Homo sapiens: one gene and its partner. The protein of the gene in region 1 purifies or fractionates together with the protein of each later gene. This does not show direct contact. Each region holds a gene or a part of one and is shown on either strand. Other genes may lie near its edges.

Region 1 (3,748 bases):
CAACCTCCGCCTCCCAGGTTCAAGCGATTCTCGTGCCTCAGGCTCCCGAGTAGCTGGGATTACAGGTGCGCACCACCACACCTGGCTAATTTTTGTATTTTTAGTAGAGATGTTGCAGGAAACTGAGGACTGGCAAGACTGAGACAGAGAACGAGAGGACTGTTTATTTCAGGTACGCACTGGCTTAGTGGACTGTCATCTAAAAAGCTGAGCATCGAACAAAGACAGAGCGGGGTTTTTATAAGCAGACTTCCAATAAATAAAAGTAGTTAATCATATGACAGGTCACATCATCTATAGCATAACTTGTGGCCTTGCATAGCTGGTGACTTTGTAGCTGCATTGAAAGAAAAACAAGAACTGGCTAAATACAGACATTTGTAAAACATAATCATGCTTAAGAAACCTGGGAAAGGAGTAACAGTCAAAGAATTTGTCTTTCTTTTTTTTCTTCAACTTTGCTCTGGAGGCGAGGGGTGTCTGGAGCTTATTCTTTTGGCCTTGGCCTCTTAAACAGCGTTATCTTATAACTGTCCTTGAAGTGAGCTTGCTGGGCAGAGGAAAACTTGTTCTTTTCTTTTTAACTTTTGCCTTGCTTGTTACTTGTCTTGGAGTGAATGAATGCATATTTATTTTTAAATTTCTGCCTCAGTTTCTTCTTTTTGAGGCCTTTTATAAAGGAAGTTTAATATGGCTCATGCTTGTAATCCCAGCACTTTAGGAGGCTGAGGTGGGTGGATCACCTGTGGTCAGGAGTTCGAGACCAGCCTGGCCAACATGACTAAACCCCGTCTCTACTACAAAATACAAAATGAGCCGGGCATGGTGATGCATGCCTGTAATCCCAGCTACTTGGGAGGCTGAGGCAGGAGAACCGCTTGAACCCAGGAGGCAGAGGTTGCAGTGAGCCGAGATTGCGCCATTACACTCCAGCCTGGGCAACAAGAGCGAAACTATCTCAAAAACAAACAAACAAACAAAACAAACCAACAAAAAAACCCAGCAACTTTCTTTCTTTTTTTTTTTTTTTTTTTGAGATGGAGTTTACTCTGCCACCCAGGTTGGAGTGCAATGGCGCGATCTTGGCTCGCTGCAACGTCCACCTTCCAGGTTCAAGTGATTCTCCTGCCTCAGCCTTCTGAGTAGCTGGGACTACAGGCGTGCACCACCACTCCTGGCTAGTTTTGTATGTTTAGTGGAGATGGGGTTTCACCATGTTGGCCAGGCTGGTCTCGAACTCCTGACCTCGAGTGATCTGCCTGCCTCGGTCTCCCACAGTGCTGGGATTACAGGGATTACAGCGCCGGCTGAAAATTACCAACTTTCTTCCCATGTGTTTCTCCAGGTCATATTTTCTCCAACAACATCAGCCTCTCAGGGGCAGGAACTCCCGGTTCCCCAGCACATGTCGGGGTGGGGGTGGGGTTTGCTGTTGGAAGTGCCTGTCACCGGAGGCAGCTAGAGCAGGGCTGCAGACAGTTCTGCTGAGGTCCCCCAGCCTCTGTGATGTCACACTGGGCCTTCTTTCCTTTCACCCTGGGCTGCGGCTCTGAGGCTGCCGTGGCCATGGAGCTCTGGAAGCTGGGCTGGGGGAGGAAGCCTGGTGGCTCTGACCTCCCCTGGAGGCGAAGGAGGCCCAGCCATGACACTCTTAACGGATGCCACGCCGCTGGTGAAGGAGCCCCATCCCCTGCCTCTGGTCCCACGTCCCTGGTTCCTCCCTAGCCTCTTTGCTGCCTTCAATGTGGTGCTGCTGGTCTTTTTCAGTGGCCTCTTCTTCGCATTCCCGTGAGTTTTCCAGGCAAGCCGTTAGGTTTCCCACAAAGAGACAGCCAGGGAAACAGAAGATGATAGGATGGAGGCAGGGGAGTGCAGAAGACCGGGGGAGAGGTCAGGGAAAAGGGGATATTCTGTTCGAGGGAACCGACGTGCAAAGGTGCAGAGGTCAAGGGTGCGGGCAGGGAAAAGGGGATATTCTGTTCCAGGAACCGACGTGCAAAGGCGCAGAGGTCAAGGGTGCCTGTGCATTTTGGGAGCTTTGGGTGGCTGGTCATGCTGGTGACATTTGGTGGAGCCATTATGAGTCTGCCTGGGTATTTGGAGCCTGGATTTTTAGATCTGGCTTGAAGGTCTGTGGGTCCTGACCTGAGCAAGCCACAGGCCTTGGGCCGGGGGCTTTGGGCTGCCCCTGCTCAGGACCGAGCCTGCCTCTGGTCTCAGTTGCAGGTGGCTGGCTCAGAACGGGGAGTGGGCCTTTCCTGTTATCACAGGCTCCCTCTTTGTCCTTACCTTCTTCAGTCTTGTTTCACTCAACTTCTCAGACCCTGGCATCTTACATCAAGGTGAGGCATCAGCCCCCTGGGAAAAGGAGGTGTCACTCAAGGGCTGGGAACCTGCAGGGGGGATTCCTAAAGTGCTCTTCCTACTGACCCTCCTCCAGCCTCTGGACCCCTTCACCCCACGTCTTCATTGCTCTGGCCCTCGCTCACTCTTTCTTCTCTTCTCTTTTCTTTCTTTCTTTCTCTTTCTTTCTTTCCTTCCTTCCTCTCTCTCTCCCTCTTTCTTTCCTTCCTTCCTCTCTCTTTCCTTCCTTCCTTCTTTCTTTCTTTCTCTTTTCTTTCTTTCTTTCTTTCCTTCTTTCCTTTCTTCCTCTCTCTTTCCTTCCTTCCTTCTTTCTTTCTTTCTTTCTCTTTTCTTTCTTTCTTTTTCTTTCTTTCTTTCCTTCTTTCCTTTCTTCTTTCTTTCTCTCTTTCCTTTTCTTTTTGTTGAGACAGAGTCTCGCTTTGCTGCCCAGGCGGGAGTGCAGTGGCGCAATCTCCGCTCACTGCAAGCTCCACCTCCCAGGTTCAAGCGATTCGTCTGCCTCAGCCTCCCAAGTAGCTGGGGCTACAGGAGCATGCTACCACGCCCAGCTAATTTTTTGTATTTTTAGTAGAGATGGGGTTTCACCATATTGGCCAGGCTGGTCTCGAACTCCTGACCTCATGATCAGCCCACCTCGGCCTCCCAAAGTGCTGGGATTACAGGCGTGAGCCCCCGCGCCCGGCCCTACCCCGTTTCTTAAGCCACCAAGGTGTGGAAAAACAGAATTGTTGAGGTTTCCCAGTTGCCTTAGATGGGAGGACCGGGCAGGCCAGGGCCAGAAGCCAGTGGGCTCTTCCAAACCACTGTATGCACTTCCTCCCTTCACTACACAATGACACTCAAAGCAGCACTCACTGTTCCAAACGCCTGAGTTTCATACAAAACTCTCCTGGCTGGAAACCCGTCTTCCCTTTGACTGCCATCCTCTCTGAGCTTGGACAGCTTGCTCAGTGGGGACAGGGGTTCCCCTGCCCACCTTGTCCCCACCCTTCCTTGTGCCCTGTGATGCCGTGGAGCTGCCCCCGCCGCGGGGTGACCGCAGGGCCTTCTGCTGTGCCCAATCCTCTTCCCACGCCAGGCTCCGCTGAGCAGGGCCCCTTGACGGTGCACGTGGTGTGGGTGAACCACGGGGCCTTCCGCCTGCAATGGTGTCCAAAGTGCTGCTTCCACCGCCCGCCCCGGACTTACCACTGCCCCTGGTGCAACATCTGTGTGGAGGTGAGTGCCCCTCTACCTGTCCACCAGCCATCGCCCCACATCTGGCTGGGACCAGGAGCCTCCCTCATACAGGGGCCAGGGCTGGGTGTGAAGCTGTTTTCAGGACTGCTAAAGGCCAAGGGTGGCAGTAACTCCCAGCCACCCTTGGTCACTCATGTGTTCTCCA
Region 2 (3,648 bases), on another chromosome or scaffold:
CATCCTAGCCTCAGCAGTGAAAAAACAACTGCTAGTTTAAGGACCAGAAAACGTGCCCTCATGCATGATATAATATCATATATATAAAACCCAATAAAGCAGGTCCCTTTGCTCATTTAAAGAGTGATAATGGGGTAGTGACCTCAAATTAGGATTCTGCTGTGGGTCTTGGGGTCGAGAATCCCTATAACCCTTAGATTTCCAACCTGTGTCATGAGGATAACAACATCTATCTCTTGGGTTGTTGTGCTGATGGATGAAGTCTTACAAGAAAAGAACCTAGCAAAGCATTTGGCACGTAGCAGGTGCCCAACATTATGTTCTTTTTCTTCCTTCCTTAAGCAAATCCTTTAAATCCAGCCCCAGCCACCCTGGGCTGGGGAGGTCTCCCGAGATTTGAATCCCCAGGTTTGGAAGAAAGTCTCTGGTTTTGAGAGGAAGGGGTCTGTAATGATTCTGAAAGCTCGAGGTCCTTTCAAATGCTACTAGAGAAATTGTGCTTCAAGTTTTAGCTTTGGGCAAAGAAGAGCTCCTGTTCCTGAAAGCAGGGGTATCCTCTCCTGCCAATCATCCCATCTAGGACTGGACTGTGTGCATCCCGCTGATGTTGCCATCTGCCCGACCTGCCTGTGCATGCCTGATGCTCTCATCCCTGGCTTGAGACCATGCAGAGGGTAATGGGTGCACACACATGTCCCCTCTCTACACAAACATGCACAGCCACCCAAACATGTCACAAAATGAGAAGTCTGGGACAGAGGTCAGGGTGGTCTTCACCTTGGAGAAGCTGGCATCTGACTCTCTGCAACCCAGGCCAAGTCCAGAGGAGGGCTGCATCCCCCAGCTCAGCTTGTGGGAAGACCACTCCTGTCTCACGCAAATATGAGGCAGCTTGCTTATCTAGAGGTGAGGACAGGAACAAGAAGCAAGGACAGCTGCTGCTGGTGTGGGTTCTTAAAAGCAGGCAGCATTTTGTCCTCCCACCTGTGACTGCACCCACCCTGTGCCAGCACAAGTAGAAAATGGTAGATCTCCCAGGACTTTGCAGCCAGCCCATCCCAACTGTTTCTGAGACTTCCTGGCCTCCTGAAAGCTGCTCCCACCTGGGAGCATCTCCCATGGCAGCTTGCAGTGCCCACGCAGGTGATGACATCCCAGCTAGTGTCCCCTGATTGCTTCCATGTTGGAGCTGACTGGTATTTGGCCAAGGCCCCACTCCAGGCATTAATCATTGACCTGGTAAGAAAGGTCTGGGGCAATTAACCGGACTCAAGAGAGCCTCAACGTTGCCATCTGACACCCATATTTGTTCCCACTCCCTCCCTTTATTCTTCCAAAGAACTGCAGAAACAAAATACCTTTATATTCACAAGGAAATAAAAGGTTCCTTGCTGGGAAATTCCCCTGCAACAAAGAAATAACCAAGATAAACAACTCTATTGCCTTTGGCTCAAGCTGGTGAAGGGAGTCTGGGAGCAGGAGCAGGGGCCAGGGTGGTGAGGGAGGTCTGGGAGATAACGCCCAGCTTCCTCCTGCTTACAGCGTCCTTATCTTTATGGGCACTCATTACTGCCCAAACTTACGATCATTTAACACTCTCTTTGTCAAGACAACTCCAAAGTTTAAAGTCTGTCAAAGTCTGGGAAAGTGGAGACTTCTGTCTCCTCCTCTAGGCTGTAGTTGGGGTCTTGATGACAGCTGCTGTCAGGCAGACCCCTGGGACCCTCAACTCTCCTCAGCCCTGGGCTGTGTCCACGGTGGAGACAAAGTCCACACAGGCTGCTCCGTCTGAGTGGTCTCATCTTCGATTCTTCATCTTTGTCTGCCAGGCCTTACCAGGCAGGATTACAAAGACCCTAACACCTAAGCTTTTAACCCCAATTCCATAACCAAGTTGCTGGGAAAACGTAAGCCTATCATTCAGCATCTCAAGACCTCAATGTTTTATCCATAAAATGGTTGTGATTATACCCGTCTGTCTTATTTCAAGGGAACATATAAAGCTCAAATGAAATAATGTAAATGGTAGTGCTTTCATAAGCAACAGGGTCTCTACAAATAACACAAATAAGCATAAGGTAAAAGCATGCTCTTGTATTTGGGGTGCGATACAGTAGTGGAGAGGTTAAGCACATGGACTTTGCAGTCAGACAAAGGTGGGCCCAAATCTTCCCCGACCCCCATTCTGTGTACCCCCACACATTTAACCCCATGTGCCCTTGAGGAAAGTACTTAACCTTGAAGCCTTCATTTCCTCCCATGTGAATGTGGATAAGGATACTAACCTCACAGGGCTGATATCAAGTCTGTATGAGATAGTACACATAAATTATTCAACACAGTGCCTGAGACAGAATAAGGGAGCAATCAATGGGGTTAGGACCATCATCATTACATTTACAGCCTTAATAATCATGACACCTCCTCTGTGGGTCTCAGTTTCCTCATCTGAACACACTGTGAAATATGTCAGCCCGCTTCACCTCCCAGGAATGTAGGGAGGGCAGCTGAAACAGAGAGATGGGGGCCACGTATTGGTAGGAACCAATCACCCAGCAAGCCATTCCTGAGATCTTACGGTGTGCCTGGGACTGTGTCTCATGGGCAGGGAAACAGAGCAAATGACACAATATCTCTATCCCAAAGGAGCTTGCAGCTTAGTTGAGAAGACAAAAGCTACTTCTAGCTATTAAGGATATACAAGTGTTGAAGGATGATAAGACTTTGAATTGTTATGGAAAAAGTGGAGGCACTGATTCATTCAACAGGATTTATGTCAGTTGCTGGAGATACAAAGCCAAATAGATGTCACAGAAACTCTAAGGTCAACTAGTCTTGGAAGACAAGGGGCGCTTCATCTCCTTGTGATTATTGTTTTTCAGCATTGCACAGGAGAAGTCGGCCTGAGTGGTGCGGCGCTCGGGACCCACCAGCAATGCTGCTCTTCGTGCTCACCTGCCTGCTGGCGGTCTTCCCAGGTGTGTCTGCCAGGCCCCAACTCTCCAAGCTCCACCCCTTCAGCCTGCCCGACTCCAGGGTTCACCTCCCTGGGGACACTAAAATCAGACTCATCCCCAGGGATGTCCCTCTCAAAGTTGGCACTTCCTTGAGGAAGAGTCATACAGAGAAGACACTGAAAGGCCACATCTGTGAGCATTGGAAGTCAGGGACAGGAATGGCACTTCCTAATCTCAAGGCCAGGGGTCTGTGAAAGATCTTCTTTGAGAATAACAAAGACCTTAACTTCAACCAAGCATCTCTATGACCCGCTGTGAAATCTGAGGGAAGTCACTTATCCTTTCTGGCTCTCAATATTTTTATCTGGGGGAAAAAAAAGAAAAGAAAATCATCTACAAAGTGCTTTTAGAAATATAAGGAAATAACACATGGCAAGTGCAAACATGTAACACCTTACGAAAGTGGTGTTATTGTTTGAAAAAACAATGGATGGCTGGATGCTGGCTCACAGCTGTAATGCCAGCACTTTGGGAGGCCAAGGAGGGTGGATTGCTTGAGGTCAGTAGCTCAAGACCAGCCTGGCCAACATGGAGAAACCTTGTCTCTACTAAATAGAAACCAAAATTAGCTAGCATGCACCTGTAGTCCCAACTACTTGGGAGGCTGAGGCATGAGAATCGCTTGAACCTG

The links. Proteins that work in one complex are often made in the same cells at the same time.
Region 2: the proteins of ZDHHC19 (region 1) and PIGR purify together in Homo sapiens (affinity purification with mass spectrometry; one large-scale study listed by BioGRID and IntAct). This does not show direct contact.

Annotation. Positions count from the first base shown.
Region 1 is NC_000003.12:196,209,210-196,212,957, reverse strand, and holds the start of ZDHHC19 (palmitoyltransferase ZDHHC19), read left to right. Parts: upstream 1-1,557; 5' UTR 1,558-1,642; coding exon 1,643-1,788; intron 1,789-2,220; coding exon 2,221-2,342; intron 2,343-3,442; coding exon 3,443-3,582; intron 3,583-3,748. UniProt on the Homo sapiens protein: Palmitoyltransferase that mediates palmitoylation oproteins, such as RRAS and SQSTM1. Catalyzes palmitoylation of RRAS, leading to increased cell viability.
Region 2 is NC_000001.11:206,939,819-206,943,466, reverse strand, and holds part of PIGR (polymeric immunoglobulin receptor precursor), read left to right. Parts: intron 1-2,882; 5' UTR 2,883-2,935; coding exon 2,936-2,978; intron 2,979-3,648.